Regions from separate parts of the Homo sapiens genome. Here region 2 is linked to region 1. Evidence: fine-mapped expression QTL. Tissue or cell type: whole blood. Region 1 holds a variant in brackets; the other region holds the start of a gene. Each region is shown on its reference strand, or each on the opposite one. Region 1 has its middle 7.3 kb from the start of KLF2. Region 2 holds the start of KLRF1 (killer cell lectin like receptor F1).

Region 1 (4,397 bases):
GTGCTGGGTGTGGTGGCTCACGCCTGTATTCCTAGCACTTTGGGAGGCCAAGGGGGGCGGATCACCTGAGGTCAGGAGTTTGAGACCATTGGCCAACATGGTGAAACCCCGTCTCTACTGAAAATATAAAAATTAGCCGGCTGTGCTGGCGTGCGCCTGTAATCCCAGCTACTCGGGAGGCTGAGGCAGGAGAATCACTTGAGGTGGGAGGTTGCAGTGAACCGAGATCGTGCCACTGCACTCCAGCCTGGGTGACAGAGCAAGACTCTGTCACAAAAAAAAAAAAAGTGAATTTTAGCCAGGCACAATGTCTCACTCTTGTAATCCCAGCATTTTGGGAGGCCAAGGTGGATGGTTCATTTGAGCCCAGGAGTTTGCGACCAGCCTGGGTAACACAGTGAGACTCAGGCTCTACAAAAAATAGAAAAATTAGCCAGGCGTAGTAGCACACTCCTATAGTCCCAGCTGCTCTGGAGGCTGAGGCGGGAGGATCACGTGAGCCTGAGGAGGTCGAGGCTGCAGTGAGCTGTGATCGCACCACTGCACTCCAGCCTGGGCAACAGAGTGAGACCCTGTCTCAAACAAAACAAAACAAAAACAGTCAATTTTATGTTATGTATATTTAATCACAATAAAGAGAAAGAATGAAAGAAAGAAAATATGGGATGAGAGAGAAAAGAACACGGTGATGGGGCAGATCAAATCACGCTGGAGAAAGAGCTCAGGCTACGAGCAGAGGGTTGGTGAGGCCCCTGTCTCCAGCCTCCTGGGCTCAGTATCCCTTCTAGAACTATAGAGATGACTTCCCTAACTGGCATCAGCTTGGGCCTGTTCTCTGCACTCAGGGGAGCCCCCAGTAAGAACCAGCCCGAGAGGCTGATGCAGGAGGATTGCTTGAACCCAGGGGTTCGAGGCTGCAGTTAGCTGTGATCGCACCACTGCACTCCAGCCTGGGCAACAGAGCGAGACCTTATCCCAAAAAACAAACACAAAAACCACTGGGTCATATGGATATACCACACTTTTATTGATTCATGAGTTGATGGGTATTTGGGCTGTTTCCACCGTCTGGCGCATGTAAATGGTGCTGCCTCGAACACGTGTGTGCAAGTATCTGTTTGTGTCCCGGTTTTTATTTCTCTTGGGACTATACCTAGGAATGGAATCACTGGGACCTATGGCAATTCCATGTTTAGCATTTTTTTTTTTTTTTTGAAACAGAGTCTTGCTCTGTTGCCCAGGCCGGAGTGCAGTGGTGCAATCTCGGCTCACTGTAACCTCTGCCTCCTGGGTTCAGGTGATTCTCCTGCCTTAGCCTCCCGAGTACCTGGGATTACAGGTGTGCACCACCACGCCCGGCTAATTTCTGTATTTTTTTTTTTTTTTTAGTAGAGATGGGGTTTCACCATGTTGGCCAGGCTGATCTTGAACTTCTGACCTCCAGTAATCCACCTGCCTTGGCCTCCCAAAGTGCTGGGATTACATGCGTGAGCCATGGTGTCTGGCCCCCAGGCTCGTCTTAACTTATTATTATTTTTTTTTTGAGATGGAGTCTTCCTCTGTCGCCCAGGCTAGTGTGCAATGGTGTGATCTCGGCTCACTGCAACCTCCGCCTCCCGGGTTCATGCAATTCTCCTGCCTCAGCCTCCCAAGTAGCTGGGATCACAGGTGCCCACCACTACTCCAAGCTAATTTTTGTATTTTTAGTAGAGACGAGGTTTCACCATGTTGGCCAGGCTGGTCTCGAACTCCTGACCTCAAATGATCCACCTGCCTTGACCTCCCAAAGTGCTGGGATTACAGGCGTGAGCCACTGTGCCCGGCCTCCTCCTAACTTCTTATAGGGCACCTCAGGGAACCCTATTCACCCAGCCTCTTCCCGACCCCTTGTCCCTCCCTGTCTGGGATATTCCTGGCAAATGGGCTTCTCAGTTCCTTTTAGACAAAAGCCTAGAAGGAACTCAGCAGGGCTTCCAGGAACCCCTAGAACCTGTGTGTGGAGGGAAACAGGGCAAACCTGATGCATTGGTGCATTCAGATGTTTCTAGGCACAGGAGGAGTTGCGGTGGCCAGGCCAGGCAGACCTGGGTTGAAGCCTCAGCTCTGCCACCTGCACCAGGTCCCCCAGCTAACCTTCCCCTCTCTGAACCCCACTTTCCACCTCTAGAAAATGGGGGTGCTTAGGCAACCCTCAGGCTTGTGGGGAGGTTGAAAGAGATAATTTGTTGAAGGTGCCCAGAATGAAAGCACCCAAGCTCGAGTCACAGGGTCCACCGTTAGCACAAAGTTAGGTCATGCGACAAACATTTTGGCACTGACTCTG[G/A]GCAAGGCCCAGAGGCTACGTCACTTTTTTTTTTTTTTTTTTTGAGACAGAGTCTCGCTCTGTCTCTCAGGCTGGAGTGCAGTGGTGTGATCTCAGCTCACTGAAACCTCTGCCTCCCGGGTTCAAGCAATTCTCGTCCCTCAGCTTCCCGAGTAGCTGGGATTATAGGCGCCTGCCACCATACCCAGCTAATTTTTGTGTTTTTAGTAGAGACGGGGTCTCACCATGTTGGCCAGGCTGGTCTCGAACTCCTGACCTCAGGTGATCCACCTGCCTCGGCCTCCCAAAGTGCTGGGATTACAGGTGTGAACCATTGCGCCCGGCCAGAGTCACTCCTGAGATTCTGAGTCATATCTGCTTGCCATACAGAGCATCTGCTGAATGAACAGGTGAATGAATGAATGAATGAGCGAAGAGGGTTGTGGGGAGAGGGAGAGAGAGGGAGGAAGGGGCCTTAAAATTCAGGCACACCAGCTTTATCAGAGGACACTCACTGTGCTGGCCACACCCCAGGGGTGGGCTCTGAGCTTTAGTGTCTCATTTCATTTTCACAGCAGCAAACTCATTTTCCACCCAAGGAAACTGAGGCACAGGCAGGCAAAGTCGCACGGCTGATCTGAGGGTTTCTTTCTTTTTTTTTTTGAGATGGACTCTCCCTATGTCACCCAGGCGCCATCTCAGCTCAGTGCAACCTCCGCCTCCCAGGTTCCAGTGATTCTCCTGACTCAGCCTCCCAAGTAGCTGAGATGACAGAGATTATAGGCGCCTGCCACCACACCCAGCTAATTTTTTTTTTTTTTAAGTAGAGACAGGGTTTCACCATATTGGCCAGGCTGGCCTCGAACTCCTGAGCTCAAGTGATCCACCCGCCTTGCCCTCCCAAAGTGCTGGAATTACAGGTGTGAGCCCCCGGGTCTGGCCAGGGGACGGGTGTTAATTGGCATTGAGTCGGTGAAGGCCAGAGATGCTGTTGAACACTGCAGTGCACAGGGTGGCCCCGCACTGGAGAATGATTCAGCTCCAAATGTCTTTTGTTTTTTCTCTCTTCTCTCTCTCTTCCCCCGCCCCCCACCCACCCAGAAACAGGGTCTCTCTATGTTGCCCAGGCTGGTCTCAAACTCCTTGGCTCAAGAGATCCCCACACCTCGGCCTCCCAAAGTGCTGGGATTACAGGCATGAGCCACCGCTGTGCCCAGCTCCAAGGCTGATGCTCGCTGGTCTGGCACAGCTGACACAGCTCAGGCCGGGGCAATCGGAGCCACCCAGCCCTGGCACCTGACAAATCAGCTTGAGCCTATGGTCCTGGGACTCCACCTGGGGCTGCCGGGCGTGGGTGCTGACTCAACCGTGTTGACAGGGCTGGGTGCTGAGTCAGGGGTGAGCCTATAGACATCTTGCCCTCTGACAACGCCCCCTTCCTCCTCCCACTTCACACCACATCATTCTGCAGCCTGCCTGGGTGCTGGGGCCCCCAGAACTACAGGAAGTGCCTAGCAGAAAAATAGCTCCTACATCTCTCCCCAGCACCATGCCAATAAGCCCCTCAAAACTGTCACCTCTCCCCCACCCCCTGCCATAGCTGGGCTTGGTGGTCTGCATCTTTAATCCCAGCATTTTGAGAGGCTGAGGCGGGAGGATTGCTTGAGCCCAGGAGGGGCAATATAGTGAGATCCCCTCTGTACAAAAAAATGTAAAAATTAGCTGGGCATGGTGATGCATGCCTGTAATCCCAGCTACTCGGGAGGCTGAGGCAGGAGGATTGCTTGAACCCAGGAGGTCAAGATTGTAGTGATTGTGCCACTGCACTCCAGCCTGGGTGACAGATGAGACCCTATCTCAAACCAAACAAAATAAAACCTTCACCCTTTTCAACCCTTTTACCCACAGTGCTTGTTTCCATAAATAACTCCTGCCATATCTAAAAGGAATATTATGCAGCCATGAAAATGACAATACAAATGTATAACTGGGGGAAAAAACAGCATCGACAAATGATTATAACTTTGCCTGGGGAAAAGAAAGAATATAGCGAAAATCACAGCCATGAAAAGTAATTCAGCCAGTGACCACAAAT
Region 2 (4,397 bases), not on the chromosome of region 1:
TATTGTTTGTAGAGATGGGGGTCTTGATTTGTTGCCCAGGCAGGTCTTGAACTCCTGGCCTCAAGCGATCATCCTGCCTCGGCCTTCCAAAGTGCTGGGATTAATGGCATGAGCCACCACACTTGGCCCCTCATTATATAAGTTTGACTGAAAATATGTAAATGTTTTATGCTACTATAAAGTAAGTTAAACAAAAATGAAAAAAAATCCATAAAAAATGAAGAAAAGGAATCTAACTAGGTATTGTTAGTGTCTTCACTATAGAGAGAGGAATTACTTAAAGTGATTTTAAAACATTTAACTGTGCATGCTCAATGGAATATATCTTAAGGATTTTTTAAAACCGCAAAACATTTTAATCTGTTTTAAGTAACTATTATTATAATATTATTTCTATAGTGATTCTGAAACTACTACATATGTATAGTGGGATAGAGCAATTATGTAATTTCTTACTATCACTGGCAACAAAGGTTTTTCAATATATGAGAAAAGATTTACAAATATGTCATCACAAAATTAAGTTAAATGAATGAACATCATAACCCCAAGGCTCACATTGTCAATCTAATTCACATAAAATACGTCTTACCTCAAGCTTTAATAAATATTAGCTAAAGGTACAAGACATAAATATTAGTATGTGTCACTTAAATATCTGGGAGCCGAAAATCTGCACATTTTTGCTTCAGAGAGACATTTATGAACAGAGTGTGGAAAAAAGTCTGCAGAGAAGTCACTACATGTTGTAGTCTTTCAGGTTTAATATCTCTAATTTCCAAAAATGAAATAAAAATTGAGTGTAGGAAGTAAAGACTTGAAAATATGGGAATCTAAAAATTCACATGGAAGAGGCAATAAATTTCTTATACATAGCACGTATGTAACTCTAAGATGAATCACTGATGGATGATACTTGTGGAAGGACTCAAGAGATAAGTAAAATTTTCATGGGTGAAGTTATTAAAAGAGAAATATTTAGAAAGCAACAGAACAGAACAGACAGTCTCTATAACTGTGATTATTTGTGTCTTTAATTTCTGCTTATCTCTTTTGCCAAATCACATTAAGGTGGCATGATGGAATTGCATTGTGTATGGAGGGTATGCTTGAAGTAGCAAATTAAAATGTTGATTGCTGGTGTATAAACTTTATTTTGAGTCAACTTGGTGAAAAGCATAAAGTTTTTGAGAAGTTGAATTAAAAATTAGTATTAAAGGCTGGGCGCGGTGGCTCATGCCTATAATCCCAACACTTTGGAAGACTCAGGTGGGTGGATCACCTGAGGTCAGGAGTTCAAGACCAGCCTGGCCAACATGGTAAAACCCCATCTCTACTAAAAACGCAAAAAATTAGCCAGGCATGGTGGCGGGCACCTATAATCTCAGCTACTCAGGAGGCTGAGGCAGGAGAATTGCTTGAACCTGGGAGGCAGAGGTTGCAGTGAGCCGAGATCATGCCATTGCACTCCAGCCTGGGCAACAACAGTGAAACTCCGTCTCAAAAAAAAAAAATAGCATTAAAACACCATATTCTATGAATGATAAGGAGGTGAATGGCAGCAAATATTCACTAATTTGAAATTATTAATTTTAATTGAGTATGCATATTTCCTCAGAGAATGTCCTTAAGAAATTATATCAGACAAAATATTACAAGTAAGTGTTAGTTCCACATTGATAAATGGGAGAGAGAGAGATTATCTCATAGTAAATTTGTAAGATTAAATGAAGGAACATAGATAAAACATTCTGTATAGTGCCGGAAACTGGTGTTTCTTAAATGGTAAGAGAGGTTGTTATTTTTAAATCATTATTAATATTGAAAGAGAGGACAGGTGAGAGAGATACAGAGACGGAGAAAGAAAAGCACCCAAATACTGAAACAGTCCAATAACACAATGGAACAGGATACGGGAAACTACCATGTTAATTCACACCAATTGAAAAAATGAAATTAAATTCCATACCTTTAAATGTAAGTTGAGATGTTTGGGCAGAACTCCTTTTCTTTGACTGTACATTCAATGTCATGTATCTTTCTTCATCTTGCATCTTCAATGTGAGTGAATGTGTGTGTATACAGGTATGTTTTGTTTTATTAAGTATAACATGAAATGAGGAAAGAATAATAAATCTGCTGCTAATCAGAGATGCTCCTCAAATTGTCCTTTCACAGTACATATGAGGGTTCACAGTTTCACTTATTTGTGAAAACCTCAGAGGAAATGTTTTCTTTTTAAAAGTTGCTTTCCCATGACATAGATAACACATAATTTCTCAACTGTCCACCACATATTGAATTGAATATTCTTTTGAGTGCTTTACAAATTTCTCTTAATTTACCCTTAAAGTCAAGGGAATGGAAATTATGCCCCTTTTTGAGGTGAGGTTAATAATATATAGCTGCCTTTTGTTATAGCCTAAATATTTATATCATTTGAATTAGCCTCCCTAACATATTGATATTTAATTTAATAATTTGCAATTGCCAAGCAATTAAATTCTTTATCCTAAAACAATATTGTTTATAAATCATGCTAATAATTTAACAGTATAATTTGATTTTTTTTAACTTTTAGGTTCAGGGCTACATGTGTAGGTTTGTTATATAGGTAAAATCATGTCACAGGGGTTTGTTGTACATATTATTTCATCACCCAGGTATTCAGACTAGTACTACATAGTTATGTTTTTCTGATCCTGCCCCTCCTCTCACCCTCCACCTTCAAGTAGGCTCCGGTGTCTGTCATTCTCCTCTATGTGTACATGTGTTCTCATCATTTAGATCCCAATTATTAGTGAGAACATGTGGTATTTGGTTTTCTGTTCCTCCATTAGTTTGTTAAGGGTAACGGCCTCTAGCTTCATCTATGTTCCTGCAATGGACATCATCTCATTCTTTTTTATAGCTGCATAGTATTCCTTTGTATATGTGTATCACATTTTCTTTATCCAGTCTACCATTGATGGGCATTTAGGTTGATTGCATGTCTTTGCTATTGTCAACAGTGCTGCCATGAACAGATGCATGCATGTGTCTTTATGATAGATTTATATTCCTTTGGGTATATACCAGTAATGGGATTGCTGGGTCAAATTTCTGGTTTTAGGTCTTTAAGGAATCACCATGCTATCTTTCATAATGGTTGAACTAATTTACACTCCCATCAAAGGTGTATAAGTGAACCCTTTTCTCCACTACCTCATCAGCATCTGTTATTTTTTGACTTTTTAATAATAGCCATTCGACTGGTATGAGATGGTATCTTACTGTGGTTTTAATTTGCATTTCCCTAATGATTAGTGCCTACTGGAGGATAGAGGGTGGGAAGAGGGAAAGGATCAGGAAAAATAACTAATGGGTACTAGGGTTAATACCTGGGTGAAGAAATAATCTTTACAGCAAACCCCCATTACACAAGTTTACCTATGTAACAAATTTGCACATGTACTCCCAAATTTAAAATAAAATTTTAAAAACACAATATACCCTTTTAAATAAGATAAACTATTAATTCAAGGAGAAAATATTTGACAAATTATCAGAAATATATTTGTTGCTTAATGACAAAAGTAAAAGGATAATACATTTTTGTGTTATTTTTGTTTATTTTTACTTGCTAAATTTTGTTCTTTAATTTATAATTACAATTTCTTTGGCCATTATTTGACACTCCAAATGGATAAGAAGTAAATTAAGATTGATAAATAAAACACGAAAAGTATCTGTTCATGTCCTTAGTCCACTTTTTAATGGGGTTGTTTATTTTTTGCTTGTTGATTGGTTTAAGTTTCTTACAGATGCTGGATATTAGACCTTTGTCAAATGCATAGTCTGCAAAAATTTTCTCCCATTCTGTAGATTATCTGTTCACTCTGTTGATAGTTTCTCTTGCTGTGCAGAAGCTCTTACAGTTAATTATTTTGTTTGTTTGTTTTGTTTTGTTTCACTTTTGTTGCAATTGCTTTTGGCATCTTTGTCATGAAATATTTGCCCATTCCTGTGTCCAGGATGGTAATTCCTAGGTTATCTTCCAGGGTTTTTTATATTTTGGGGTTTTAGACATAAGTATTTTATCCATCTTGAGTTGAGCTTTGTATATGGTATAAGGAAGGGGTCCACTTTCAATCTTCAGCATGTGGCTAGCCAGTTATCTCAGCACCATTTATTAAAAAGGGAATCCTTTTCCCATGGCTTGTTTTTGTCAGCTTTGCTGAAGATCAGATGGGTGTAGTTGTGCAGCACTATTTCTGGGCTTTCTGTCCAGTGGTCTATGTGTCTGCATTAGACCATTGTGTTCCAATGGTCTATGTGTCTGCTTTTTTTTTTTTTTTTACCAGTACCTTGTTATTTTGGATATTGTAGTACTGTAGTATAATTTGAAGTTGGGCAAT

Evidence for each region. PIP is the estimated chance that this variant, and not a neighbour inherited with it, causes the effect. A credible set is the group of variants that fine-mapping cannot tell apart.
Region 2: it holds the start of KLRF1, and the variant in region 1 is the best candidate, but not a certain one, in a credible set for the expression of KLRF1 in whole blood (TOPMed, PIP 0.67).

What each region holds. Positions count from the first base shown.
Region 1 is chr19:16,329,898-16,334,294 of GRCh38, reverse strand. No RefSeq gene overlaps it. Among named protein-coding and RNA genes, the nearest start is that of KLF2, 7.3 kb to the right of the region's middle. RefSeq lists an enhancer at 3,245-3,354 and a silencer at 3,705-3,754. The variant G/A (reference allele first, on the strand shown) is at 2,324.
Region 2 is chr12:9,825,202-9,829,598 of GRCh38, reverse strand. KLRF1 (killer cell lectin like receptor F1) reads right to left here and starts at 2,118. Exons shown (of 6, transcript NM_016523.3): 1 at 1,970-2,118. The coding sequence starts at 2,054.